Homo sapiens: one gene and its partners. The protein of the gene in region 2 purifies or fractionates together with the protein of the main gene of each other region. This does not show direct contact. Each region holds a gene or a part of one and is shown on either strand. Other genes may lie near its edges.

Evidence for each region.
Region 1: the proteins of SHISA3 (region 2) and PTGES2 purify together in Homo sapiens (co-immunoprecipitation; 2 studies listed by BioGRID and IntAct, with this or other methods). This does not show direct contact.
Region 3: the proteins of SHISA3 (region 2) and TRMT61B purify together in Homo sapiens (co-immunoprecipitation; 2 studies listed by BioGRID and IntAct, with this or other methods). This does not show direct contact.

Annotation. Positions count from the first base shown.
Region 1 is NC_000009.12:128,120,193-128,124,729, forward strand, and holds the end of PTGES2 (prostaglandin E synthase 2), read right to left. Parts: intron 4,359-4,537; coding exon 4,300-4,358; intron 3,660-4,299; coding exon 3,510-3,659; intron 2,943-3,509; coding exon 2,742-2,942; intron 2,455-2,741; coding exon of another isoform or gene 2,409-2,454; exon of another isoform or gene 2,294-2,408; intron 2,288-2,293; coding exon 2,170-2,287; intron 1,082-2,169; coding exon 953-1,081; 3' UTR 501-952; downstream 1-500. UniProt on the Homo sapiens protein: Isomerase that catalyzes the conversion of PGH2 into the more stable prostaglandin E2 (PGE2) (in vitro). The biological function and the GSH-dependent property of PTGES2 is still under debate.
Region 2 is NC_000004.12:42,390,816-42,402,033, reverse strand, and holds the start of SHISA3 (protein shisa-3 homolog precursor), read right to left. Parts: upstream 4,547-11,218; 5' UTR 3,978-4,546; coding exon 3,701-3,977; intron 1,023-3,700; coding exon 583-1,022; 3' UTR 1-582. UniProt on the Homo sapiens protein: Plays an essential role in the maturation of presomitic mesoderm cells by individual attenuation of both FGF and WNT signaling.
Region 3 is NC_000002.12:28,864,875-28,876,024, forward strand, and holds the start of TRMT61B (tRNA (adenine(58)-N(1))-methyltransferase, mitochondrial precursor), read right to left. Parts: upstream 5,436-11,150; 5' UTR 5,404-5,435; coding exon 4,705-5,403; exon of another isoform or gene 4,686-4,704; intron 246-4,685; coding exon 143-245; intron 1-142.

The DNA of each region.
Region 1 (4,537 bases), on a different chromosome or scaffold from region 2:
CAGGAAAGGGGGTCCCACCCACAACCCACACTCACCCTGGAAGGCAGAGCCTCTTCTCCCATAAAGCCTGGCCCAGCCTGGAGCTGAAGCCCGGGGCCGCCACCTGAGAGGGCTTGGTTCTGTCTGTAGAGCAGGGGTCTGAATAGCCTGGTGCCCTGGACCAGGTGACCCGGCTCTGTGCACTGCACCTGCTCCTATCACTGAACTCTCCCACAAGGCGGGGACAGACGAAGAAACTGAGGCTTGATGAGTGACCCCACTGCAGAGCCCCACCGTGGGTAGGGTGCCCCGACCTGCACTCTGGCTGCTGGGCTCCACGGCCCAGCTGTGTGCCCTGAGTGGTATCCTGGGGACGATGCCACACAAAGCCTGCGGAGCCGTACCGTGCCTGACACCTGGGAAGCCCCAGGCCAGCGGTTAGTTACCACAAGGGCTGGCACAGCCCAAGCCTGATGCCTCCCTTGACCGCCAGCCCCACGCAGCACTCAGCCACACGGAGCTCCATGAGATGCCTGCCATGACAGGCGCCACAAACCTTTCCTTTATTGCAAACATGTCCCAGTCCCGGGAGGCTTGGGAAGAGTGGGAACCAGGGGAACCCAGGGATGGGATTCCACTGAAAACAAACCGTCCTGCTGTCCTGTCGAGGGCCCCCACCCACAGGATGTAGCCATGGGACAGCCACTGAGGGTCCAGGAAGAGGGGCGGCAGAGCAGGGAGGCAGGGACAGGGAGGGGTCGCCCCAGGGCAGTGGCAGGGCTGGAACTCGTCCCTAACATCCCTGAGCCCCAGCAGGTGCCCTGTGTTAGAAGCGAGAGGGCTGGTGGGGGTGCGTGGACAAGGGGCAGAATGATCCTGCCCCCAACCAGTATCGCCAGGCGCTGGCCCAGTGGCCCCAGGCCCTGGCAGCTGGCGTCTTCCGCTGCCTTCCCTCTGCTCTGCGCGGGGACATTCAGTGCGCTGGGGAGGCCTCGGTGATGGCCCTCTCCACCCGCAGGTACCAGGGCTGGATGTGCGTGTGCTGCATCAGGTCATCGAACGCATCCAGCCCCTCCATCACACGCAGCACGCCATACACCGCCTGGGGCACGAACAGAAACGTGTCACCATAGCTGGTTTGACAGGCATCCAGACCTCCTTCGTTCCCTGCCAGCTGTGTGGCCAGGTCCCGTCCCCTCCCCCCTTGGAGCTCGTGACCCACTCAAGGGCCAACAGCACAGGTGAGGGTTTGAACAAAGCATGTGGGGTGGCTGCAGGTCTCGCCTGCTTCACATCTGTACCCCCTTTTCTGGGCCACAGACCCTGCCCCCCAGCAAGTTTCCTTGGGATAAATGCCCTCCCCTCATCTCAGGTCCTGAGATGGGGGAGAAGAGACCCCACCACCCAGTTTCAAGACCCAGGTCACCCAGGGGCAGGACAGTTTTAAAAATGAGCAGTGGGCCAGGCACGCTGGCTCACGCCTGTAGTCCCAGCACTTTGGGAGGCCAAAGTGGATGGATCACCTGCGGTCAGGAGTTCGAGACCAGCCTGACCAACATACTGAAACTCTGTCTCTACTAAAAATTCAAAAATTAGCCGGGCATGGTGGCACAGGCCTGTAATCCCAGCTACTCAGGAGGCTGAGGCAGAAGAATTGCTTGAACCTGGGAGGCGGAGGTTGCAGCGAGCCAAGACTGCACCGCTGCACTCCCGCCTGGGTGACAGCGTGAGACTTGGTCTCAAAAAAAAAACAAAAACAACAACAACAAAAAAAAACAAAAGGAAAAAGGGCAGTGAAGCCAGGCCAGTGAGACGCCCTCCCAGGGGTTTTCTGGGAGAAGCCTGGAGCACCGGACCCAGCCCGCCTGAGGCTGAAGCCAACTCCAGGGAGGGCAGTGTTGATGGCGACAGGTAGAGCTTGGGCTCTGGTAACACCACCCGGGCCTCTGGATCCAGCAGGGCCCGAAGCCAACCCGTTCCCTGAACTTGTCAGTTATGTGAACCAAGGCGGTTCCTGGTCATCTGTTTCTCTCCTGGAGCCACTTCGAGGCGAGTTTCTGTCCGTGATGGCAGAGAGAGGCAGGTTCCTCTGGCAAGATGCAAGCACCGTCCAGGCTTTCCCTTGCAAACCTCCCCCACTCTGAGGACAGAACCCTCGGTCCAGGCACCACCTGCCACCACCACACTCACCAAATCAGCGAGATTCGGCTTCTGGCCCCCCATGAAGGGCCGGTCCTTGCCCACAGCAGCCACCCACTTGTCAGCAGCCTCATAGAGGTCCTCGCGCACGTTGTCCTGGAGGCGGTGCCTGGGCGGGGAAGGGAAAAGCCCCTCAGGGGAGCCCCCACTCCCAGCCCAGCAGGGAAGAGGGTCTCCTCTGGGGAGAGGGGGGAGGTGTGGAAGCCAGGACGGCACCCCAGGTGAGAGCATCACATCTGCAGACGCCTCAGGGAGCATCCGTCCCAGACGGGGAGGCTGTGGTAAAGGCAAGAGACCAGGCCAGGGAGAAAGCCACAGAGGAGGCGCCAGTCAGGGCCCAGGCTTCCGGCTTCAAGGCCAGCCCTGCTGTCCCCAGGGGAGGTGAGCAGGAGCTCTGGGTCCAAGTCCCATCTTGGCCAAGGGACCCATAATCCATAATGCGTTTCCCACCTGCCCTAGGCCTCGGCCTCCCGCTGGTCTCCTGAGGGGTGTGATGGGATCACCACTGCTCGTGGCACCGGAGGCTCGGGGACAGCAGGCCCCGGATGTGCACACACACTTGCCTGCTCTTGAGTCGCTTGCTGATGAGGTACATGGCCGCTGCACCCATGTACTTGGCCACGGCACCCTCCACGGCTCCGAACTTGCCCTCGCGGACAATGTAGTCAAAGGACGCCAGAGCCTCGGTGGGCGTGCGGTACACATTGGGGGAGATCAGGTGCACCAGCCAGTCGTCCGCCCACTGCCGCCACTTCATCTCCTCCCTGCGGGCACGGGAGGGACTTCCTAAGCCAGGACCCGGGCTGTGTTGGGAGCAGGCTGCATTCTCTAGAACATACCCACTGCACGGGCGGGAAGCTGAAGCCTGAGCAGGAAGGTCTTTTTTTTTTTTTTGAGACAAAGTCTCGCTCTGTCACCCAGGCTGGAGTGCAATGGCACCATCTCAGCTCACTGCATCCTCCGCCTCCTGGGTTCAAGCGATTCTCCTGCTTCAGCCTCCTTAGTAGCTGGGATTATAGGTGTGTGCCTCCACACCTAGCTAATTTTTGCATTTTTATAGAGATGGGGTTTTGCCATGTTGGCCAGGCTGGTCTTGAACTCCTGACCTCAGGTGATCTGCCTGCCTCGGCCTCCCAACAGGCTGGGATTACAGGAGTGAGCCACCACGCCCGGCTGCAGGAAGGTCTCTACTGAAATCCGGCATGGCCCGGCCCCAGCCCCGCTGGTCTCCCATGCTGCTCCCTGCTCACGCCATCTTGCTCAGCTTGGTCCTACTCTACAGAAGACCCCTGCGGTCACCACCTTCCCCCGCCAGCCCCAGCCCCACTCACGTCCTGGCCTCCTTCCCACCATACACTTGCTGGGCCTCCTTCTCGTTGAGCATGAGCCAGTACTTATTGCCGAACTCGGTCACCTCCTTGCCCTGCTCGTTCACAGCCTTCATGGCTGGGTAGTAGGTGATGATCTCTTCCAGGGGCTGCCTTCGGAGAGAGCCACAATATCACCCCAACTCCTTCCCCCTCCGTCCCCTGTGGCCGACCAACCCCGCTGCCCCAGCCTCAGAGTGGAGCCAGGACCAACAAAGGCTCTCCGGACTCTTGCAGTAAGAGGGATTTGGAGTAGATGCCAGGGCTACCTCCCCAAGAGAGGGAGGTGTGGGGAGGACAAAGTAGGGGGCTTGGAGGAGGACGGCCACGGGCTACTCTGGAAAATCATTTTTTTTTTTTTTTGAGACGGAGTCTCGCTCTGTCACCCAGGCTGGAGTGCAGTGGCACGATCTTGGCTCACCGCAACCCTCTGCCTCCCGGGTTCAAGCGATTCTCCTGCCTCAGCCTCCTGAGTAGCTGGGACTACAGGCACTCGCCACTATGCCTGGCTAATTTTTGTATTTTTAGTAGAGATGGAGCTTCGCCATGTTGGCCAGGCTGGTCTGGAACTCCTGACCTCAGGTGATCTGCCTGCCTCGGCCTCCCAAAGTGCTGGGATTACAGGTGCGAGCCACTCTGTACTCTGGAAATCTAAGCAGCAGCTCCACGTGCTCCCAGGAGGGAACTCAGGGGAGGCCTCCCTGGAGGAAGCCACCAAAAGCAATGGCCACCTGGTCTCCGAGGGGCTCCTTACCCCGACACCAGGTAGGTCTTGAGGGCGCTGATGATGACAGAGGAGTCATTTAGTTGTTGCTGGAAGAGAAAAGGGTGGTTTAATCAGAGGTTGCAACCCAGCCGCTGGGAGTCACCAGGGGCTCTTTAACAAGACACTCTGGGCATTGTTTATCCATTCCTGGGGACATGCCCGGAGTCCTCCCCGCCCTGCCCTCAGGGCACCCATCCTAAGTAGGGAGACGTGGTTGTGGCCAATG
Region 2 (11,218 bases):
AACTCATATTGTAAACAAAATTTAGTTATTTATTTAAAAAGTAAATGTTCTCATTATGCTAATATTATTCATGGTTAGGTTACTCCCGAAATCATAAATAGATTTTTCACTGCCCCCTTAAGTTTACCTAATAGTTAATTTTTTAAGTGAACCTTTGATAATTACAATTAGGTATTTTTCTTTGCTTATTTATGAATATATTCCTATCATAACTCAATGAACAACTTATATGAAAAAGAAACATGTAGCCCTTTTCTAAGCAATATAGCTGAATGTCCAGTAAAACGTTTTTAGCCAGTTTGCAACTTTAAAGTCAAACTGCTGCATATTTTGAATAAAAGTAGCATAGATTGAAATGTAATGATCACATGTTTGCAAAACCAGAAAACAGTTCTCTGGTTTAGCCTTTCTGTGATTGGAGACAGGAACTTTCAAATTAGAAGGTGCTGTGTTTTCCTAGCATGCTCCTCCATGACACTGATCAGTTACAAGGGAAATTTTCTCAGAATTGCATGTGGCAATGGGAGCAGGGCTCCACCTGTCTGCCATCTGACTGAGTTGTGGATTCATGGCCTGGGCGTGTCAACTGGAACTGAAGTCTGGACAGCTCTTCCCAGGCAGTGGGGGCTCCTGCTGGAGGGGGTAAGCGAAATACTGGGGTGACACCAGGAAACCAGATGGCTGAGCCAGGTGGATTGAGTGGCTGGTGGTGTATGGCGGGGGCGGTGAGGGCACCAGGCAGCCCGGCTCAGCCCTGGCAAAGGAGAACCTGCGGATGGAGCCGCCTGTGGAGCTGGAGCTCGTGGCTGTGCTGGACTGCCGGGAGGGTGCCCTGGGGCTGGTGGAGGTCAGGATCATGGGCAGGGTCTCTGTCTGATAGCTGCGGAGTGAGAAGCGGATTGGCTGCTGCGAGGGCTCCTTGGGTCTCAAACAGGTGCAACAATAAATAGCCACTACAGAGCCCAGGATGATGAACGCAATGAAGATGGAGCCGACGATGAGAAAGGGGACGTAGACAGGCTCTAAAAGGCAAAAACAGACATAAACAGATGCTCAGATGAGGATCTCCCAGATTCTGAACTCTGCTTGGGCAGCTGAGGGTTGAGAGGTGGGAGACTCAGTTACTATCACTGCTGTCAGCTCAGTTTTTCAGAGCTTGTTAATGGTAACCTCCAAAATGCAATGCAAACCGTGATGATGGAATATTCTCGCTACTCCTAGCAGGGAGGAAGCAAACGGATACCGTAGCCTCTGTTAGCAATTAACTATCATATTGCACATCTGGAAGTCAGAAAAAAAAAACGGAATCTGTTCTCCTGTTCAGGCACTAGAGGGAAAGGGTGAGTTTTAGGGGTTAAAATAATTCTAGGTTTAAATGCAGGTTTTAGTAGTTTGATCACGGTGAGCAGTAAGAGACTTGTCCCCTCTCTTAGGCTGGCAATCCATCTCCCATTCAATAATCTCCAGTCTAAGCAAAGGGAGCCAGGCCTATTAAATGAGATTCCCCTCTACACACAGACCCAGGATTTTATGAGACTCCAGAAAGAACAGTATAAAGAAATTCACAGAGGGCCCCAATCGACTGTGTCTCCTACCATACACCACAAATTGCCAGCTCTGGCTGCTTCTTTCCAGGAAAGATTTGGAATACCCACTCCAGCTGCCGTGCCTCTCAATTCCCATCCAAGCCTGGGAAGTCAGACTGAACTTTAGATAGATCACCAGGCAATTCTTGGTGTCCACGGCCCAGACTTTCTATAAAAGCATCCCTCAAACAGAGCAAACTCCAATTTCCTTCTCTCTCTACAAGGCAGACATAAAATTCCCAAGCCCGGAGGCATCCCCTTGGGCAGTTCTCCAGGTCTCTCCCCTGATAGAGCCGTGCTAAGACGCAGCCTCCAGCTTACAGGTAGAAGAAAGAAAGCCTGCATTGACTAAGTCCCTACTGTGTGCCTGGCTCTTTCTTATTCATTATCTGATTAAAGTCTCTTGGAGACCCTGTGAGATGGACATGATAAGCTCCATTTTCCAGATGTGGAAATACATCAGAGAAGTTTGCGCATTCCCACAGACAGAGCTAGTGAGGGACAGGTAACTATCAATTATTTGTGGGCTACTAGGCGTAAGCTCTTCTGTGTCCCTCCCATTCTCCCTTGTTTACTAGCACCAGCGTGCAAGGCAAGGCAAAGGTAAGTAACTACCATTTACTGAGCCCTGCGCTCCAGCATTCATACACTCTCACGTCACCAACAACTTAACTCCTTTGAGAGCAATATGCCCACTTTAGAACTGAGAAGAGGTATCCAGAGCAGTTAAGTAACTTGCCCAAGTTACACCGCCGGCAAGTGACAGAGCCAAGGTCCATCAGGGTTTGCCTGATCCCAGACTCAGTGAGTGTGGAGACTGCCTCTCCCTTCTGCTGTCCTCTGGCATCCGAGCCGAGTAGGGAGCGCAGAGGAAGCCCGTGCTGCAGACTGGGCAATTGCACTTACTCCCAGAGGGCAGCTGGGTCCCCCAGGGTGAGCGAGTGAAGCCGTGGGGAAGAGTCTATATTTTTCTAACAGGCCAGGAGGGCCTAGATTTCCCTACTTTCCGCTGAGCATCTTTTCTCCAGAACTACTTCCAGAATCCTCTAGATTGGAAATGTTGACCCCCAACATTCACCCTCTAGTGGAGCACTAATGGAGGGCAGACTCCCCTGTCCTCTGGGTTATCAGTTTGCGGGGAGGGGCCGTTGGGGAACCCTTAATGATCTCTCCAGCCTCTCTTCCCTTTCCCGGCGACCTTCTCTTGCGGGCTCCAGACCTCGGCTCTCTGGAGTCCTGGGGTGTCACCCGCTCTCAGCTCCGCCCGCTTCTCCGGTTTCCCTGGCCATAAAACCCTCGCCTCAAGCTCTAAAGCGTTTCCCTGATGTTCCGATTCAGGTGGAAAACTTTTTTTCAAGGTGTAAATTTTCTCTGCTGGGGTCGTGATTTATTCCGCTCTGAAGTCAGCGGAAATTTGACCCGTGTTTTCCGAAGTGAGAATAGGGGGCGGGGAAGCCCCTTCGACCCTTGTTTCTAAATCTCCACCTCGAAGACCTGGGCATTTCTGAAAGGCGTGACAATAGGGGGTGGGCCGGAGAGGGTAATTCGATGCAGAGAATTGAAAGGAAGTCTGCAGAACGGGGCCGTGGCTTAGAAACGCTATCATTAAGACAGAAAAAAAAAGTGACTGGGGTTTCTTAGCCCTGAAGGGCTGCAAATGAGCGCGCGACAAGAGTCGCGATTCCCTGCATTCGGCACTTCCCGAAGCTCCCGAAGTGACAAGGGCGAGCAATGGGACACCCTCGGCCCCTCCACCAAAACCCAAGTCTACCCTGGCTTTACCCGCACTACCCTTCTCCCGGGAGCTCCAGCTGTCTTCCCCCCGGCTACCAGGCACAAGCCCCGCGCTCCTCACTGTCCCTGGCAAACTTTCCCTGCGGGCCGACCCGCAGAGACCGCAAGTGGCGGGAAGCGGGACTGCAAATGAATAGAGGACCATGATCTGAAACGCGACCACCCACTCATCCCTTGATTCCCCCACCCGGCCGCGTCCCCCTGGCGCACAGACCCAGGAAGGCGCATAGACCTGCCTGGGTCTGTGCATCCTCCCGCGCACACATGCAGCCGCCGCCGTTAGGCGGGCGGGGATATGTCCCCGAGGGCCCCGCACTTACGCGCAGTGATGCCTGGGTGCTCCAGTTCGCGGCGGTCGTTGGTGCAGCCGCCCTGCTCCAGCCTGGCGTCGGCCGCGGCGCAACAGTAGCGGAGCGCGCAGGAGCCGCAGCAGATGGTAGCGTCCAGCGTGTCGAAGTCCTCTGGGCACTGGAAGCCCTCGTGGTAGTTGCCCTGCACGTCCACCCAGCCGTGGCAGTACTCTCCGGACTGCTGGGCGCCCGCCGGGCCCCAGCGCAGCCAGCCAAGGAGAAGGCAAAGCGCCAGCAGTGCCCTCATCGCCACTGGGCTCCCTGGGCGGCCGGGAGCAGGACGCAGCTGGAAAGCGAAGGGCTGAGCCCGGGCTCAGGGCGCACAGCGATTCCGCCTCCCCAGGGACACGTCGCAAGCTGCTGGCCCCGGCGGCCGAAGCCAGTCCTGCGTGGGATAGCAGGGGCCGGGGAGGCGACAGGGGCTGCACTACGAGTTCCGCAGGCCGGGAGTCAGCATGGTGCGCGGGGCGAGTTGGCGAGGGCCTGCGGGAGGCGCCGGCAGAGGCAGTTGCTGGGGCTGTCGCTGCCGCCCTTCGCCCGGCTCATAGCGCTCCCCGCGCGAGGGGCGCGCCAACCCCCCGGCCACCTCCCTCCCCACTCCTCAAGGGAGCCATAGCGCCCGGGGCTGCCAACTCCAGCGCCGCACAGAGTCCCAACCTGTGGCGATCGCCGGGTCCCGAGAGGAGCCGGAGGAAAAGAATTTGTTCCCCACGTGCGAGTACCCCAGACAGGCGGCCGCTCAGCCCCAGCCCCTATCTGTCACAGGAGCAGGAGTCAGCTCCGCCGCGGCCAAGTACAAACGGCCGCGGGGTTGCTGACAGCTCTGCCCGCAAGGCGTCTTTTAAAAAGGAAGAGGGAGGAGGAGACAATGAGGGTTAAGAAAGAGTCCGCCCTCCCGGATCGCGCCTCTGGAGCTAATCACAGCGGGTGCGGCGCGGGCCGAGGGTCCTCTGCGCTTTCTGGTTCGCGCTCCATCCTCCGCCTCCCCCCGGCCACCCCCGCCCATGCCGCTCCCCCAGGACTTGACTCTCAACCTGAAGATATCAGACCCTCCCCTCCCCCGCCGCACACCCCAACTCTCTCACAGCCCGGAAATCTCTGCAGAGTGACGTTGAGGGCTGCCGAATTCCCGCGTTTATCCACGCACGTGGGCGCGCGAGTGGAGACGCTGGATTTACTTTTCAATGGATATAATGCATGAATGCGGTGCAGTCATTGAAGTTTGTCGAATCATCTGTGCCCTGTTGCACAGACTCAGACTCGTTCCTGGGATACCGCTTCTAAAGGTTCAGGACCGAGAACATGGTTTTTAGGTGTCGCCAACATGTGCTGAGCTTTCCACCTACGTTTCCACTTTTTCTGGGAGGAACGGCACATTTTCACAAGCACACACACACACACACTCGCACTTTTTCCGCCGGCTGAAGGATTGCCGGTCACCTCTGCCAGCCAAGGCCAGCTCGCAAAACCTCAAAGAGCACGACTTCTCCGTTCACGCCCGCAAAGGAAATAAAGGAGCAAAATTAATGATAATTGAGCAGAACTGAACTTCTGTTCAGGGAAAGAAACACATTTATTTAAATGATGTGTCCCCTGTGGGCTATTTTCAGGGGCACTGCTCCGTTAGCGGCCTAAGTGCCTTATGAAACTGGTGTTATGTGAAACCTGGGCCAAACGCAAGCATTTATTTTGACTGCATCCTGAACTTCCAATCATCGTCTATTGGTATGTGTGAATATGTTCGGTGTATCTCGGCTTATTTGTCAAACAAGCTGCATACCCGTGTCCCTGAGTTAGATGTCGGCAAGTTGAGTGAAACAAAAGGAACAAAGTGTTCTCAGCTCCAGCGACACAAGGTGCGCGGTCAAACGCATTTATCACGTTCGCAGCTTCCTGATGAACCGAGTCGATTCCGGAGAAACTTTTTTAAAAATCTCCTATTAAAACGATTTCTTTTTTTTTTTTTTTTATCTAAGTTAAAGTATATTCCAATTAAATAATTACTTCTGATTTCTAATTTTAGGTATTGGGATTAGCATTTAGTTATGTGGCTGCTGAAAATACATGTCCATTTCACACGTTAAGTGGGACCGTGTAAATATTTAACTTTATTGCTCTCTTAGAGTTACATATTTCTTAGGACAATACGAAGCTATTAAGTAAAAACAAATTAAGTTGGAGCTTTCAATAACAAACAATGAAACAGTTTTTTAGTTAAATAGTTTAAGCATATGGGAAATTGTTTTGCAGAAATTTCTTAGATATTGGGTTTTTTATTTACAAAAAAAAGGTCTTGCCAGACTTAATCTTTTTTTTAACTCTAGTTGTTTTTTAGGAGTGTTGTTTCAATTGTATATATATCCTGAGCAATTACAGGAAAATGTCACTTAGAAACACAGCAAAAATGAGATATAGTGATTATAATCAGATGATAAAAATTATGACATGTTTACTGCTAATAACTTTCCCAGAACCACACCTTTTAATATTAGTTTTTGTTAAAATTTAGAGGAATTTCATTACGTCATAACTGCATAAAGTTCTGCTGCAGCAGCAACCTTTGCTGGTCCCCCAAGGGTCAAGTTTCTCTCATTATCCAGCTGTTCTTTGATAGCATTAATATTTTAAGGAGTGATTTGTTGGCACTTACCTCCCATTAATTACATTCTCCATGCCACAGTGGGATTCTTTTTCCTGGAGACACCAGCTATAATTAATTCCCTCATTCAAAGCTCCTGTCTACTTGACTTATTTAGAGGGCATTTTACCCAAATTTAGTTGGATGATGTTTACTAATGGAAAGTAACCAAACCTCCAAATTACTTGATCCTTCGTAGATCTGACTTGTGTGAACAGTAAACAACTGTGCACCATGCTTCAGATCTAGGTCCTCATCCTAAGCACCTTTAAAACCATTACAACAATCAGCTTCAGGAGTTTGCCTGGGCGAGGGGTTGGGGGGAGGCAGTGATATGTTTGGTTTCTTGTCATAGAAGATCTCTGCAAACTTTCCATTGTCAAATTTTAACTTCAAAACTGATGCCCTGAGAATCCTTTTCACCAACAGAAAGAGAATATTCACCTCTTTTTAGATATATAAACATCCAAAGTTTTTGTTATTCTGTTACTAGTTTAATAGTAAAGGAAGATGAAAAAGTTCTCATAGACACCCCTGAAAGACTCTAGGGGGAAGACATAGAGATAGAAAATAAAGTCCACAATATCTGGGGTATTATGAAGAGGTTTTGGAAATTCTTTATTGTTTCTTATCTCAGTAACACAAATTCCTTATTTTGGTCAAGAACATAATCATAAGAGATCATTTCCCCAGCCTACATACATTCTCTTGTGGCCCTGCCTCAAGGAAACTCTGTAGGAAGTGAGTTAATTGACATGATGTCTGGACTATGCTTTAATAAACACCAGCAAGAAAGAAAGAGAGGAGAGAAAGGCAGAAAGAAAGGGAAAGAAAAGAGGGAGGGTAGGAGGAAAAAGAAAAGATAGGTGAGCAATAGGGATGAGAAGATGGGCTAGGCAGAACTGAAACACAACTGGCAACATGTAGATAACTGTAGCTGGCTGAAGGGAACTTATAAAATCGAAATGCAACTCTTTTTTTCTTTTCTTTTCCTTTTGTTTGAGACGGAGTCTCACTCTGTTGCCCAGGCTGGAGTGCAATGGCATGATCTCGGCTCACTGCAACCCCCATTTCCTGGGTTCAAGCAATTCTCCTGCCTCAGCCTCCCAAGTAACTGGGACTACAGGCACCCACCACCATGCCCGGCTAATTTTTGTATTTTTAGTAGAGATGGGGTTTCACCATGTTGGCCAGGCTGGTCTCGAACTTCTGACCTCAGGTGATCCGCCCACCTCAGCTTCCCAAAGTGCTGGGATTACAGGCGTGAGCCACTGCGCCCAGCCGATGCATTTAATATTCTTAGGACATATTTGCTGACCATATTTTTAAACTTTGTTCTGGCCAGACATGGTGGCTCATGCCTATAATCCCAGCACTTTGGGAGGGCGAGGAGGGAGGATCCCTTGAGCTCAGGAGTTCAAGACCAGCCTGGGCAACATGGTGAGACCCTATCTCTACTAATAAAAATATAATTAGCTGGGCATGGCGGCACATGTCTGTAGGCCCAGCTACTGGGGTAGCTGAGGTGGCAGGATCACTTGAACCCAAGAGGTGGAAGCTGCAGTGTGCAGCGGTGGCACCACTGCGCTCCAGCTTGGGTGAACAGTGATGCCGTGTCTCAAAAAAAATAAAAAAGAAAAAAATTGTTCTGTTGACTTATCTTTTTTATATTCTTTGGAGCTGAGTGAATGATTTGAGAAAACCAAAAGCAGGGAGGTGAAGGGCCACATGGATCAGAAAGGTTTGGGAACTAAAATATACTGAGGAAAAAGGAGGAAGGCTAAAGGAATGCAGAAAACAAAAACAAAAACAAAAAAGGGCAGTTCACTGGACTATGGAAGAGTCTACTCCAGCTCATTTGCATTGGCCTCAGAAACAAAATGAAAAACAAGAGTTCCTCAACCCTCCCTCAAGTTTGCTTGTGCAATGACTTGTTTTCACTCTCCTTTAATTCAGAAAAAAACACTTTAATTTAATTTTCCTTTAATTACCTTGCCCATGACTTCATGGAATTCTCTTCCTTGGATCGCTTGTTGTAAATCTCTTACTCCAGGCCCCTCTCAATCTGAGTTACTCGAAAGGTGTTTTCTCTGAAATTTGCTGTGGCACATGTTTACCCTAGAGAATAGCAAGGTGCCTAGAAGGACACTCTCAGACCTGGGCAACCCAGCCCCAGGCCAGGCCCCTCTTCCTGCCCTGTGTTTCGGGCAGCCTCAGTCTCTTCATTTACCAAAAGAGGGGCTTAAGCTAGGGCCCTTAGAGAGTGTTTCTCAAAAGGCCATGAAATACCTGGGAATCTTGTTAAAATGCAGATCTGGCCGGGCACAGTGGCTCTCACGTCTGTAATCCCAGCACTTTGGGAGGCCGAAGCGGGCGGATCGCCTGAGGTCAAGAGTTTGAGACCAGCCTGGCCAACATGGTGAAACCTCATCTCTACTAAAAATACAAAAATTGACCGGGCGTGGTGGCGTGCACCTGTAACCCCAGCTACTCAGGAGGCTGAGGAAGGAGAATTGCTTGAACCCGGGAGGCAGAAGTTGCAATGAGCTGAGATCACGCCACTGCACTCCAGCTTGGGTGACAGAGCAAGAGTCCATCTCAAAAAAAAAAAAAAAGCAGACCTGACTCTCACAAAGTCTGCAGTGGGGCCTGTGATTCTGCATTTCTAATGAGTTTCCAGGTGATGCCAAGTGGCTGCATTGAGGACCATACTCTGAGGCCCTCTGGCCTTCCTCTGCCCTGTCTGCAGCCACAGGGGAAAGAGTGAATAGAGCCAGAGGGCAGTGCCCACCCAAAGCCCATTCCCTCCCTTTTTGTACCACTCTCTGGGTCCTGGATCCCAGCACTCCCTACTCAAAGAGGCCAAAAGTTGCTTCTAGGCTGCACAGAAGCCTCTTCCTGATGTTAAGAGGTTCTGGCGGGAGGTGTTTCAAAATTTGTACACATAGGCTGGGATGCCCAGACACATACATGGGAGGCCCCTTGCAGTGCAAGATGAAGTCAGGTATGGGAAGAAAGAGGAAGTCAGAAGAACAGACTCAGGCTGATGGCTTTCATGACTTTTCCTGCCCTGGCTTGAAAATGTGAGAACGGGCCTGTTGTCCAGTATGTTATAGAGACTCTGTAAGTGTTCATACAGGGTATAAGGATTGATTGAATAAACAACAAAAGGAACGTTAGCAATTCCGTGGTATTAAACCACACACACTGCAATTTTGTGTTAGGGCATCTGTCTTCCCCATTAGTCTGACCTCCTTTTACTTTATTGGATCCTAGGACCTAGCACATAGTGGGTGCTTAGTGAATGGTGAATAAATAACTGGCTAAAACAATGAGTGGCTACTCGAGAACTTGTTGCAACTGAGTGACATCCGTTTCACGACTATACAGAACTGCAGCAGAGGAGAGCAGGATGAATTCCCAGGCAGGGGGTATTACAGAGTCATCTCCTGGTGATTTAATCATCACTGTAGTGCATGAAGAACTCTCCAGTGTGTCAGCACTGCCAGAATAGGGCAGTCACCAGCCCATCCCCCATGGAGAGAGTGCTGACACTTGTCCTAGAGAACAGAGATATGATGCAAAGACAATCGGCCAGGACAGGAGAGTGTGCGTCTTACTAATCACATGACCTTGAGCAAGGTCATTTCTGTGTACTGCACTTCAGCTTTTGTGTCTCTAAAATGAGGGATGTGGGAAGGAGTAATCCTTACCCTGAAAGATTATTGTAAGGATTCAAAATAAAACACATAGCAAGGATGCAAAATAAAACATGGAGTGTGGCACAGAGTTGGCACTTCATAACCAGTAGGTATTATTATTACCCACCACCAGCTGATTTGAATCTGTAATCAAATAATCATGGCAAGTTTCCTGCTAACCAGAGTAGGCCTGTTCCCCGATTAATTTGAATAGATTATTTACAGTTCCCCTTCATTCATTCCCTTATTCATTAAATATGCCCATTCATAACGACTGGCAATTGAATGTTGATTATTCATTTTTACAGTTGTTCTCCTGAGACATGCCCAAAGCTAGGAGAAGAGGAGGATGAGAGAGGGTGTCAGATGATCACAGTGTAAGGACAGGCCTTACTGGACAGACCTTATTTCAGCTGGATTTCTACAAGGTGTAGCCCCAAGCACAGGTGGGCATTTAATAAGTATCCGATTAGTCTGTGATTCCACATTATGTCGGTAGAGCTGTAATTTATTAACTTGGGCTCCTGGCATCCTTCCAGTGCATGTATAATAGAATGACATTTTTCATGCAGAAATATAAATTAAATTAATTGGCATCCATATTTAATTGAAATTTCCTTGACAGTAGATGGATTCTCCCCTAACACCACCCCTTTCTCAGCAAGGGGCATTTCCTTCTGAGTGCTTGCAGACTGAAGAGAGGCCAGCCCCCATTCCTGGGGCTCCCCGAGGAGCTGGCTTTCAGCAGGGTTTAGAGCAGCACGAAAAGTGAACTGACCCTGGAAAAATGGTAAGTTGCTGCTCAGCGGCCATGTGTGCTTTTGGTGGGGGAAATATTTTATGGAGGAGAAAGAAAACACAGAGGGTTCTTGTCTTGTTTCTGTCTTCTTACTTCCCTTTTCACTTTTACCAGCCATAACAGAATGTTTTGAGAATTTTTAAGTCACCTTTAAAGTTTGTAAATCATGTGGAAATGATTTACATTTTTGCAGCGTTCTTTTTTGAAAGCTGTTATGTAATTGCTTGCCAAAGGTATCTTTTATTTTAATTTTTCTCCTTCTCAGGTAGTCTGGGTTTGGTTAGCTCTGTTGGTAACTTAAAGGGCCAGTAAGGCAAAGGTCTTGATTTCCGTTCCTGTGGGTCAACGAC
Region 3 (11,150 bases), on a different chromosome or scaffold from region 2:
AAATAGTTGCTTACTTTCAGATTCTAGGAGAATGCTACCTCAATGTTAGGTATTTTCCCAAATATCTTTATACCTTTCTGTTATTATGAACAAATTGAATGTTTTCTTTGTTACTGAGATCCAGCTCAGTCCAATCTCTTACCTGCTTTGGATAAAAATAAGCTCATTCCACCAGAGCCTGAGCCAGCTTCCAAAACAGTATCACCTGGGTTGATATCCATCATTGAGAGAATCATATTAATATCCTATGATTGAAAACAGTATGGGTGACTCAGCGACCAATAAATATGTACTAAGCACCTAGTCTTATCTTACATTGTTGGGTGTGCAGAAGAAGGGAGTGAAAAAACGAATCAGACTCTGGACCTGCCTTCAGTTTATATTTCACTTGATGAAATAAAAGAGATCCAAGAATCAATTAACAAATAAGGCAACACTTCAGAATAATACCAAAATTACAGACAATAAGTTCATAGAGTAGCAGGATGGCCTAGTTTAAAGACAAAGAGTAGACAATTTATGGGAACAATCACAAGGTAAAAACAGCTTTAAACAAAGCAGAGGTAGAATAAATCCAGTTTGTTATCTCAGGAGAGATAGGCAGAGAATTAAATGCCAGTATGAGGCATTAGAACTCAGCCTGATAAGCAACTAGGGTGTGTCACTGAGGTGATATAAATGGCATTTTATGAGGATTAATCTGGCAGAAGAATACAGGATCTACTGGAGAAAAATCAAGAGGCAGGAAGACCAGTTAGGAATTTACTATATAATCTCTGCATAAAATGATGAATTTCCTTTTTTTTTTTTTTTTTTTTTTTGGGAGACGAAGTCTCACTCTTGTCCCCCAGGCTGGAGTGTGATGGCACGATCTTGGCTCACTGCAACCTCCGCCTCCCGGGTTCAAGCGATTCTCCTGCCTCAGCCTCCCGAATAGCTGGGATTACAGGTGCCTGCCACCATGCCCGGCTAATTTTTGTATTTTTAGTGGAGATGGGGTTTCACCACGTTGGCCAGGCTGGTCTTGAACTCCTGACCTCAGGTGATCCGCTCGCCTCAGCCTCCCACAGTGCTGGGATTACAGGTGTGAGCCAGTGTGCCCAGCTCAAAATGATGAACTTCTTATTTTTGGGGGGACAGAGTCTCGCTCTGTCACCCAGGCTGGAGTGCAGTGGTACAATCTTGGCTCACTGCAAGCTCCGCCTCCTGGGTTCAAGCGATTCTCCTGCTTCAGCCTCCCAAGTAGCTGGGATTACAGGCACCCACCACCACACCCAGCTAATTTTTTGTATTTTTAGTAGAGATGGGGTTTCACCATGTTGGCCAGGCTGGTCTCAAACTCCTGATTTCAGGTGATCTGCCCGCCTCGGCCTCCTAAAGTGCTGGGATTACAGGTGTGAGCCAACGTGCCTGGCCAAATGATGAACTTCTAATTTAGAATTAAGATACTATATAACAGCGGTCCCCAACCTTTTGGGCACTAGGGACCCGTTTCGTGGAAGACAGTTTTTCCACAGACTGGGGAGAGGGGGATGGTTTTGGGATGAAATTGTTCCACCTCAGATCATCAGGCATTAGTTAGTTTCTTATAAGGAGCATGCAACCTAGATCTGGTGCATGCACAGTTCACAAGAGTTTGCACTCCTATGAGAATCTAATGCCATGGCTGATCTGACAAGAGATGGAGCTCAGGCAGTAATGCTCACTACCCACCGCTAACCTGCTGTGTGGCCCGGTTCCCTGTTACAGGCCACACACTGGTACCAGTCCTCAGCCTGGGGGTAGGGGAGCCCTGCTATATAAGAAAAAAAAGAGACTATGCTATTACTAGATTGGAGGACCCACTTGCCAAACATATAATTGGAATTGTTTTTGTTAACACAAATATTACGGATGATATTAATAAAAACTGTTTTTTTAAATTTAGTAAACAAATTTTCTTGGTGACAGGGTCTCTGTCACTCAGACTGGAGTGTAGTAGTGCAATAGTAGCTCACGGCAGCCTCGAACTTCTGGGCTCAAGCAATCCTCCTACCTCAGCCTCCAAAGTAGCTGGGACCACAGGCATGTACCACCATGCCCAACTAATTTTTTTTTTATTTTTTATAAAGATGGGGTCCTGCTATGTTGGCCAGGTTAGTCTTGAACTCCTAGCCTCCAGCAATCCTCCTGCCTTGGCCTCACAAAGCACTGAGATTACAGGTGTGAGTGACGGCACCTGCCCCCTCACTTTTTTTTTGAGATAGGATCTTACACTGTTGCCCAGGCTGGAGTGCAGTGGCAAGATCATGGCTCGCTGCAGCCTCAAACTCCTGGGCTCAAACAATCCTCCCATCTCAGCCTCCTGCGTAGCTGGGACCACAAGTGTGTGCCAGCATACCTGGCTAATTTTTTATTTTTTGTAGAGACAAGGTCTCCCTATGTTGCCCCGGCTGGTCTCAAACTTCTGGGCTCAAATGATCCTCCTGCCTCAGCCTCCCAAAATATTGAGATTACAAGTGTGAGCCACTGCACTCTGCCTCTGGTCATATTTTTAATACTAAGATGGAATTATGTAATTCTAACAGGGAGATCAGTTTTTAAACATCAGTGAAGGTATTCCCTCAAGCATTTCAAAGTTGTAGAAGTTGAAGTAAAACTATCTCCAGCCATTACTTGGAAGCTATAAAGAGAAGTCAACACCTAACAAATTTAGTACTTAAATTCCTCCTTAGAGTGGAACAATGTGACTTTTATCTGTAACAAATGGAAAGGCAGAAAGTATACTAAATATGCATATTTATAACTTCATGAAATGTAACTAATCTCTCCTGATTTTGTCTAATGGGGAGAAAGGAGACACGGGGAAGCAAGATAAAATTACGAAAGTCTTTTAGTTTTCTTCAAGAGCTTATGATACCATGGCCAGGAGCGGTCGTTCTCACCTGTAATCCCAGCACCCTCAAGGGAGGATCCCTTGAGCCTAGAGAAGTTTGAGACCAGTCTGGGCAAGTTAGGGCGACCCCAACTCTACAAAAAAAATTTTTGATTAGCTAGGCATAGTGGCATGCACCTGTGGTCCCAGCTACTCAGGAGGTTGAGGTGCGAGGATTGTTGGAGCCTGGGAGGTTCAGGCTACAGTAAGAGGTGATTGAGCCACTGCACTCTAGCCTGGGTGACATAGCAAGACCTTGTCTTTAAACAAAAAAAGCTTATTATACCTCAGTAGCCTAAGTTTCTGAGGAAAGTTTTTTTAGTCCCTGGGTAGACCGTTTAAAATACAGACTGGATTCCTACTAAGAACCTTCTAATGGTCCTTCACTACAAATGGAATAAAATACTCAAACCACACCTCATACGGGGTCCCTCATCTGACCCATTGAGGCCACAACAGAAACTCTGCAGCATTCCTCCCTTTGCAAGAACAATTCTCTTCCTAGATCTGTTTACAAGGCAAGCTCTTCCTTATTTAGGTTTCCTATCAAGTGTACCTCCTTGGAGACCATCTCTCCTCACCTGACATAAAGTATGCTCATACCCCAGGTCACCCAAAACAATGTCATTGTTAATATATTTGTCTTCATGACACTTAACACTACTGGAAATGACCTTATTCTTTCATTTACTTGTTTGTTCTTTGTCACCCCTTCTAGAATGTAAGGTCTATGTTGAGGGTGAGGACTGCAGTTCAACACTATACTTCCCTAAACAGTGCCTTGAGTATGGAAGGCAGTCAATTTGCTGAATAAATAACGAATGAATCCTGATCTGGAGAAAGGAGGAGGAGTTGTGTTACACAGGAACATTCTACTCAAGGACTGTGACTAAGGATTGAAATAATCTGCTAGCAATAGATGATTAGCATAAGCTTCAAACTAGGGCTGGGCGCGGTGGCTCCCGCCTGTAATCCCAGCACTGGGAGGCCGAGGTGGGCGGATCACTTGAGGCCACGAGTTGAAGACCAGCCTGGGCAATAAGGCGAAACCCCGTCTCTACAAAAATTAGCCCGGGGTGGTGGTGCATGCCTGTAGTCCCAGGTACTCAGGAGGCTGTGGTGGGAGAATCGCTTGAACCCGGGAGGCAGAGGTTGCAGGGAGCCAAGATCGCAACACTGCACTCCAGCCTGGATGACAGAGTGAGAACTTGTCTTAAAAAAAAGACTGAAACTAGGCTTTAGGCAGTTAACTTTTTAATAAAGAATAGTCATTTTATGTTTGGTGTTGAATGTTAGCTATTGTAATATAAAACTCTATTTCTTCCCTAAAAGGGGAAAAGCACCGTAATGTACCTATTGTTAATATACTCTTGTAACATGATTATTGAATATTAAAATATCATCATAGTAGTACTAAAAAATTGTTCCCTAAGAGTTCAACATTCTCTTGAGTCCTGAAGTTATAAACTTAAGAGTAATGGGGAACAAAATTAGTACTTATTATGTACGTAGTGAGTTCACATCACCCTAACAGAAAGTTGAGCTATTATCCACATTTTACAAATAAGGGACTCGAGACTCCTAAGTTAAAATTAAAATCTAGCCGTTCCCTAATGCTAATTTTCATCATGATATGTAAAAGTTATAACCATTGGTTTATTTTAAAAGCCTGAGTACAATAAAAAATCCAAACGTTCTGAGATGTCTTTGAATACATTAATCAGGACTGAGTACTGCATCTGTCTTTGCCCCTCCTGAAACCAATACACACCTTATCTCCATCGCATTACCTTTGGGAATGTTATGGCAGTCCCTCTTTTCATCAATACTACATAGTCTTCCAAGGCTGGCCTCCTCAGCATGTACTGCTTACCGAAGGAACTCCTCAGTATCTGGCCGGGGAACTTCCCCACGATCTTGCCGAACGGGACTGCCCCCCAGTTACTATTTAAGAGTCCGAAGTTGTTCAACCTAAATAATTTCTTAAATTTTGTTTCTCCCTCCCCAGTCTCAGCTAAAATCAGTTCCCCAGCCTGAAAGGGTCTCTCTCTGGAAGTTGAACAAGAAGGGGAGACGTGACGCTCTTCGACCTCGGTAGCGGACTGGGCCTGCGAGAGCATCGAAGGATCCTCGGATCCCTGGTGTGTGGGACCGCACCGGCCCTGGTCTCCGCTCGAGTCCTCGAGCTCTCGAGGGGATGACTCTTCCCGCAGCGTCGGCAGTCTGAGGTTTTCCAGTGACGAAAGACATCCAGTCCCAATGTCCGAGATGCTCAGAGGGAGAGATGGGCAAGACTCTGCTCCTGGGGCTTTCCTTTGTGCCGCCTCGTGCTCTCTTTCTCCATCTCGCAGGTCTCTAGGCGAGGACCTGCAACACAGTGACCGAGCTCCCTCGAAGGGCTCCTGCCCCAGGCCGTGCAGGAATGAATTGGTTCCGAGCCCCTGCCGCAGGCACAGCAAGACAGGACCGCGGCACCATGCCATTAGCATAGTGTTTCGCGAAGGCGCCGTCGCAGACGAGTGACGCAAGCCTAGCGCGACCCCTTCTTTCCCAGTCGCGCGCATGGCGCAGCAGCCCGATGGCTCTGCAGCTGCGTGGGGCTCTACAGCTCCGCGACTGCGCCTGCGTCGGGGAGGGGGCGGTGCGCTAGGTCAAGCTAGGGCGCGGGAGCAGCGGAGTCCTGGTTGAGTGACCATCCAAGGAATATGTCCTCGCGCGCGGCCGCCGTTTTCCTTTTCGGAATGTGGGTAAAGAATTTACCGCTAACAGACGACCTCCAGGTTCGCTCTTGGACAGCAAGATTGAGAGACAAAACTTAACAAAGCGCTGTGCAAACTGAAATCCCAGGCTTAGCTCGCTTGTGTCTTGAACACGGAAGTCACCTAGTCACCCACAAGATGTATGAGTACAGCTAACCCCCAGATGCATTTGACAGACGGCGTGGGACGCGCCACTTGCTGATTGGCTCTCCTTTCCCAGTTGACCGCGACATCCCCCAGCCCCAACTCCCTTTTGATGGGGCTGTGACCACCTGCCGGTCCCCTCACCCACCCCTCACGCCCGGAGAGTCCGAGGTTGATTCGAGTACTCACTATGTGCTTATGTAACACATGTTTTCATTATTAAAATATAACTAGTTTACCCTCCCAAAACGAAATAGAAGTGTCTTAAAATGGAAACAGGTATCTTTGGAGGCCAGAGTTATTTAGCGTTAAATATCACTAGCCTCCCAGCATTTTGGGAAGCCGACCGAGGCAAGCGGCTCATTTGAGGTCAGGAGTTCGGGACCAGCCTGGCAAATGTGGTGAAACCCCGTCTCTACTAAAAATACAAAAATTAGCTGGGCGTGGAGGCACGCACCTGTAATCCCAGCTACTCGGGAGGCTGAGGCAGGAGAAGCGCTTGAACCCGGGAGGCAGACGTTGCAGTGAGCTGAGATCTCGGCACTGCACTCCAGCCTGGGCGACTGAGCAAAACTCCTCTCGGGGGAAAAAAATTAGTCGGGCGCGATGGTGCACGCCTGTAATACCAGCTACAAGGGAGGCTGAGGCATGAGAATAGCTTGAACCCAGGAGGCGGAGGTTGCAGCGGGCCAAGATCGAGCTACCACTGCACTCCAGCCTGCGCGACACAGCAAAACTCTGTCTCAAAAAAAAAAGAAAAATCGCTAGCCTCTTTGCTGGATATTAGTTGACTGGGCAAAAGTTTATTGAGAGTCTGGCAATACGAGGCACGTTAGACACTCATTTAAGTTTCCAACAATTCTGTGTTAGAAACAAATCCATTTTATGAGTAAAAGAACTGGCCCAGGGAGATTAAATAATTTGGGGAAACCAGGAGTGGTGGCTCACACCTGTAACCCCAACACTTTGGGAGACCCAGGCCAGAGGATTGCTTGAGCCCAGGATTTCAAGACCCACGTGCAACATAATAATAATAAGTTGGTCAAGATGCATAGCTGACAAGTGGCATTGCAGAGTTTCCTATTTAGTCAGTCTGGTTCAGCAGCCCATGCTCTTTGTACTGTAACACCGTTTGGAAAGACTGGTCAACAGCACAGTTGAACTTAAAGTCCAAGTATATTCAAAGGGCTGTGAAGTCAATGTGAATTCTGTTTAAATTTGATGAAATAAATCTTGTTATTCTTTTTTTTTTTTTTTATTTGAGACAGAGTCTTGCTCTTGTTGCCCAGGCTGGAGTGCAATGACACGATCTTGGCTCACTGCAACCTCTGCCTCCTGGGTTCAAGCGATTCTCCTGCCTCAGCCTCCCGAGTAGCTGGGGTTACAGGCACCTGCCACCATGCCAGGCTAATTTTTGTATTTTTAGTAGAGACTCGGTTTCACCATGTTGGCCAGGCTGGTCTCGAACTCCTGACCTCATGATCCACCCGCCTCGGCCTCCCAAAGTGCTGGGATTACAGGCATGAGCCACCGCGCCTGGCCGTTATTACTTTCTAAGACATAAATTAATACTTTCTAATCAGTACTTTCTAGGACATCAGCCACCATAAACTCCATCAACAGGATTTCTCCCTTCTTTTTTTCCTTTTTTTTTCTTTGTGAGACAGAGTCTCACTCTCGCCCAGGCTGGAGTGCAGTTGTATGATCTCGGCTCACTGCAATGTCTGCCTCCCAGGTTCAAGCAATTCTCCTGCCTCAGCCTCCCAGATAGCTGGGATTACAGGTGTGCACCACCATACCCAGCTAATTTTTGTATTTTTAGTAGAGACGGGGTTTCGCCATGTTGGCCACGCTGGTTTGAACTCTTGACCTCAGGTGATCCACCCACCTCAGTCTCCCAAAGAGCTGGAATTACAGCCATGAGCCACTGCACCCAGCCAAATTTCTCCCTTCTAATTCTAAAAATGAATAAAGAAACTGCTCTCTCCACACCCCAACTGCGTGTCTCACTTTGTGTAGTTTGCTTTTTAGGAAAAGTTATGACCAATAGTTTCTGGAGTCGTAGGCTTTTCTCACTACTTTTTCTTGTGATAGGCTTTCTAAGACAAAAACTCATTTTTGGTTATAAAATTCTTGAAATTAAGGAGATTATCATTGCCAAACATGGGTCTGAGCCGGAACCTCCTGAACTCTAAGCCCTATGGTGGTTTTAAAAGTTATCATACCTACTTTATTATTTCTTGAGTATTATCAAATGATACTTGGCTGTTATTTCAGAATAAGCAGGAATTGGAAAAAAAGAAAATACACTAACAAAATATGGGAAGTAAATTTACATATCTTTGATTTTTAAAACAAATTGTAAATGGAAAATGGCATCACTTTCTTTCCATTGTTTAAATAACAGCCACAATGTTATACGTATTTTGTTTTATACACATCTAATGAAATACATTAGTACATTTTGGAAAATAATATTATTTATTCATGATCTTTCAGAGCATTGAAATTCTTAAAAAAGAAGTCACTATGTGGGCCTTTCTATTTCTGGCTATCCTTTACTTCTGCTTTCCCTATGAAATTGTCAGCCTGCACTCTGAAACTATTATCTTGATGATGAATTTGTGATACATCGTCAACTTATCATGTTTACTTACTTAATTTATTTACTGAGACGGAACTTTGCTCTTGTCACCCAGTCTGGAGTACAATAGCACGATCTCAGCTCACTGCAACCTCTGCCTCCTGGGTTCAGGTGATTCTCCTGCCTCAGCCTCCTGAGTAGCTAGGATTACAGGCCTGTGCCACCACGCCTGGCTAATTTTTTGTATTTTTAGTAGAGACTGTGTTTCACCATGTTGGCCAGGCTGGTCTTGAACTCTTGACCTCAGGTGATCCACCCACCTCGGCCTCCCAAAATGCTGGGATTACAGGCGTAAGCTACCGCGCCCAGCCCATGTTTACATTATAAGGCTAAGAAAAATACTGTTTTCTAGTGACATTTAGTTAAGCATTTACTTTAAAATCTGAATAGTTCTCAATAAATACCATGGCTGATGGCTGGCATTTTAAAATCTCCAAACAGGCAACCAGTTCTAGTTCCACAGGTGATCTCCTCCAGCTCTTTGCACATGCTTCTTCACTCTATTTTGTGTAGTTTTCCCTTGTCCTCCAGCTATCAACCTCACAGTACCACTGGAATGGTGGCTTTGTACCAATCCCAAAAGACCTAGAGTAGTGCCTTTCACTTCTGCTCCCAGTGGGTCCTGCCTGTTTTTGTTTTTATTTTAGAAATAGGGTCTTGCTCTGTCACCCAGGGTGGAGTGCAGTGGTGCCATCATAGCCTACTGCAGCATCGAACTCCTGGGCTCAAGCAATTGCCCTGATTCAGCTTCCAGCGTAGCTGGGACTACAGGCATGTGCCACCAATGCATGGCAATTTTTTTTTTTTTTTTAAAGACAGAGTCTTGCTCTTGTCGCCCAGGCTGGAGTGCAATGGCGCAATCTCAGCTCACTGCAACCTCCCCATTCTGGGTTCAAGCGATTCTCCTGCCTCAGCCTCCCAAGTAGCTGGGATTACAGGCACCCACCACCATGCCCAGCAAATTTTTGTATTTTTAGTAGAGATGGGGTTTTACCATGTTGGCCAGGCTGGTCTCGAACTCCTGACTTCAGGTGATCCACCTGCCTCAGCCTCCCAAAGTGCTAGGAATACATGCGTGAGCCAATGTTTTTTGTTTTTTTTTGTTTTTTTGTTTTGTTTGTTTGTTTGTTTTGTTTTGTTTTGTTTTGTTTTGTTTTGTTTTACAGGGTTTCACTCCCATCACCCAGGCTGGACTGCAGTAGCATTCTCTTGACTCACTACAAGGTCTGCCTCCCGGGTTCAAGTGATCCTCCTGCCTCAGCCTCCCGAGTAACTGGGATTACAAGCTCATGCCACCACCCCTGGCTAATTTTTCTATTTTTAGTAGAGACGGGGTTTCACCATGTTGGCAGGCTGGTCTTAAACTCCTGACCTCAAGTGATCCACCTGCCTTGGCCTTCCAAAGTGCTGGGATTACAGGTGTGAGCCACGCGGTTGGCCATAATTTAAAAAAAATTTTTTGTAGATGCAGGGTCTTACTATGTTGACCAGGGCAGTCTCAATTCCTAGCCTCAAGCAATCCTCCCTCCTCAGCCTCCCAAAATGCTGGAATTATAGGCAAGAGTCACCACATCCAGCCAGAGTCCTGTCTTTAGATCTATCATGGCACATGTCATACTATATGGAAATTGCTATTTATCATTTCCCAGGATAGAGGATATAATTGTTGGGGAGAAGACTATGTCTTGTTCATCATTATAATTCCAGTGCCTGGCACAAAACATCTCTCAATAAACATTTGTTGAATAAATGAATGAAGAAAGTAGAAAATGAGAAAATTAACAGCACTGATACCTAGACTACTATACTAAATAACTCAATGTATAAACATGGTGCAATTATATTTAATAGTTATCATGTATTTTGTTCTGTGTCTGTACATTCATTTAGTTTTTATTAGAACTGTTGAAGTTCACAGATTTTTTTCTTACTGTATTTTAGCAAAATAGAAAATATCTATGTCTAAGACTATACCTGCTTTTCTCCTGCTTTTTCACTTTATCCCCAGTTGCTGCTAAACTTGAATCTGGATTCTGTAGAACTTCTCCTCTAGGATTTACTGCTGTGTTACTAGAAACTGCAAATCCAAATTCAGAGAAGTTTAAAACCTTCTCAAACATGTGTACAGGCATCAAAGAAAAATTGATGATATTGAGAATTGGAGGGTCTTCTCACTTATCACCACCCACCACCACCACTCACTAAACCCCTTTTCTGTTTCTAAATTAGAGGATATTATACAGGATGAACCCAAGCCAGTTTGTTAGCACATTGTAAGCCATCATTTTAGAGTTTCAAGAATTGATCAGTCCTTCCTCCTCCTGGAGAAGATCTTAGATCCTCTTTCCTTCTCATCAGGGTCCTTCTTTTGGAGAATGGACTGACTCCTCACCTCCATCGGCCCCAGCCCTACCTAGTCAGCGTCCTGCTCCTGTCTGGGCTTCAGAGAACCTCCACACTGAGTTTCTCCTTTCCACCCTCCATCTCTTTCTCAGGTGCACCAACTCACCCTCAATAAGTCCGCTGGATTTTAAAGTTAGCTGTGAGACGTTTAAGCTTTGTGTTTATGTTCGCTGTCTTTGTTCACCAAGCTTATAATGAATGCACGTAAAATAATCAACTCCACTGCCAGTCACGGTGGCTCACGCCTGTAATCCCAGCACTTTGGGAGGCCAAGGTGGGCGAATCA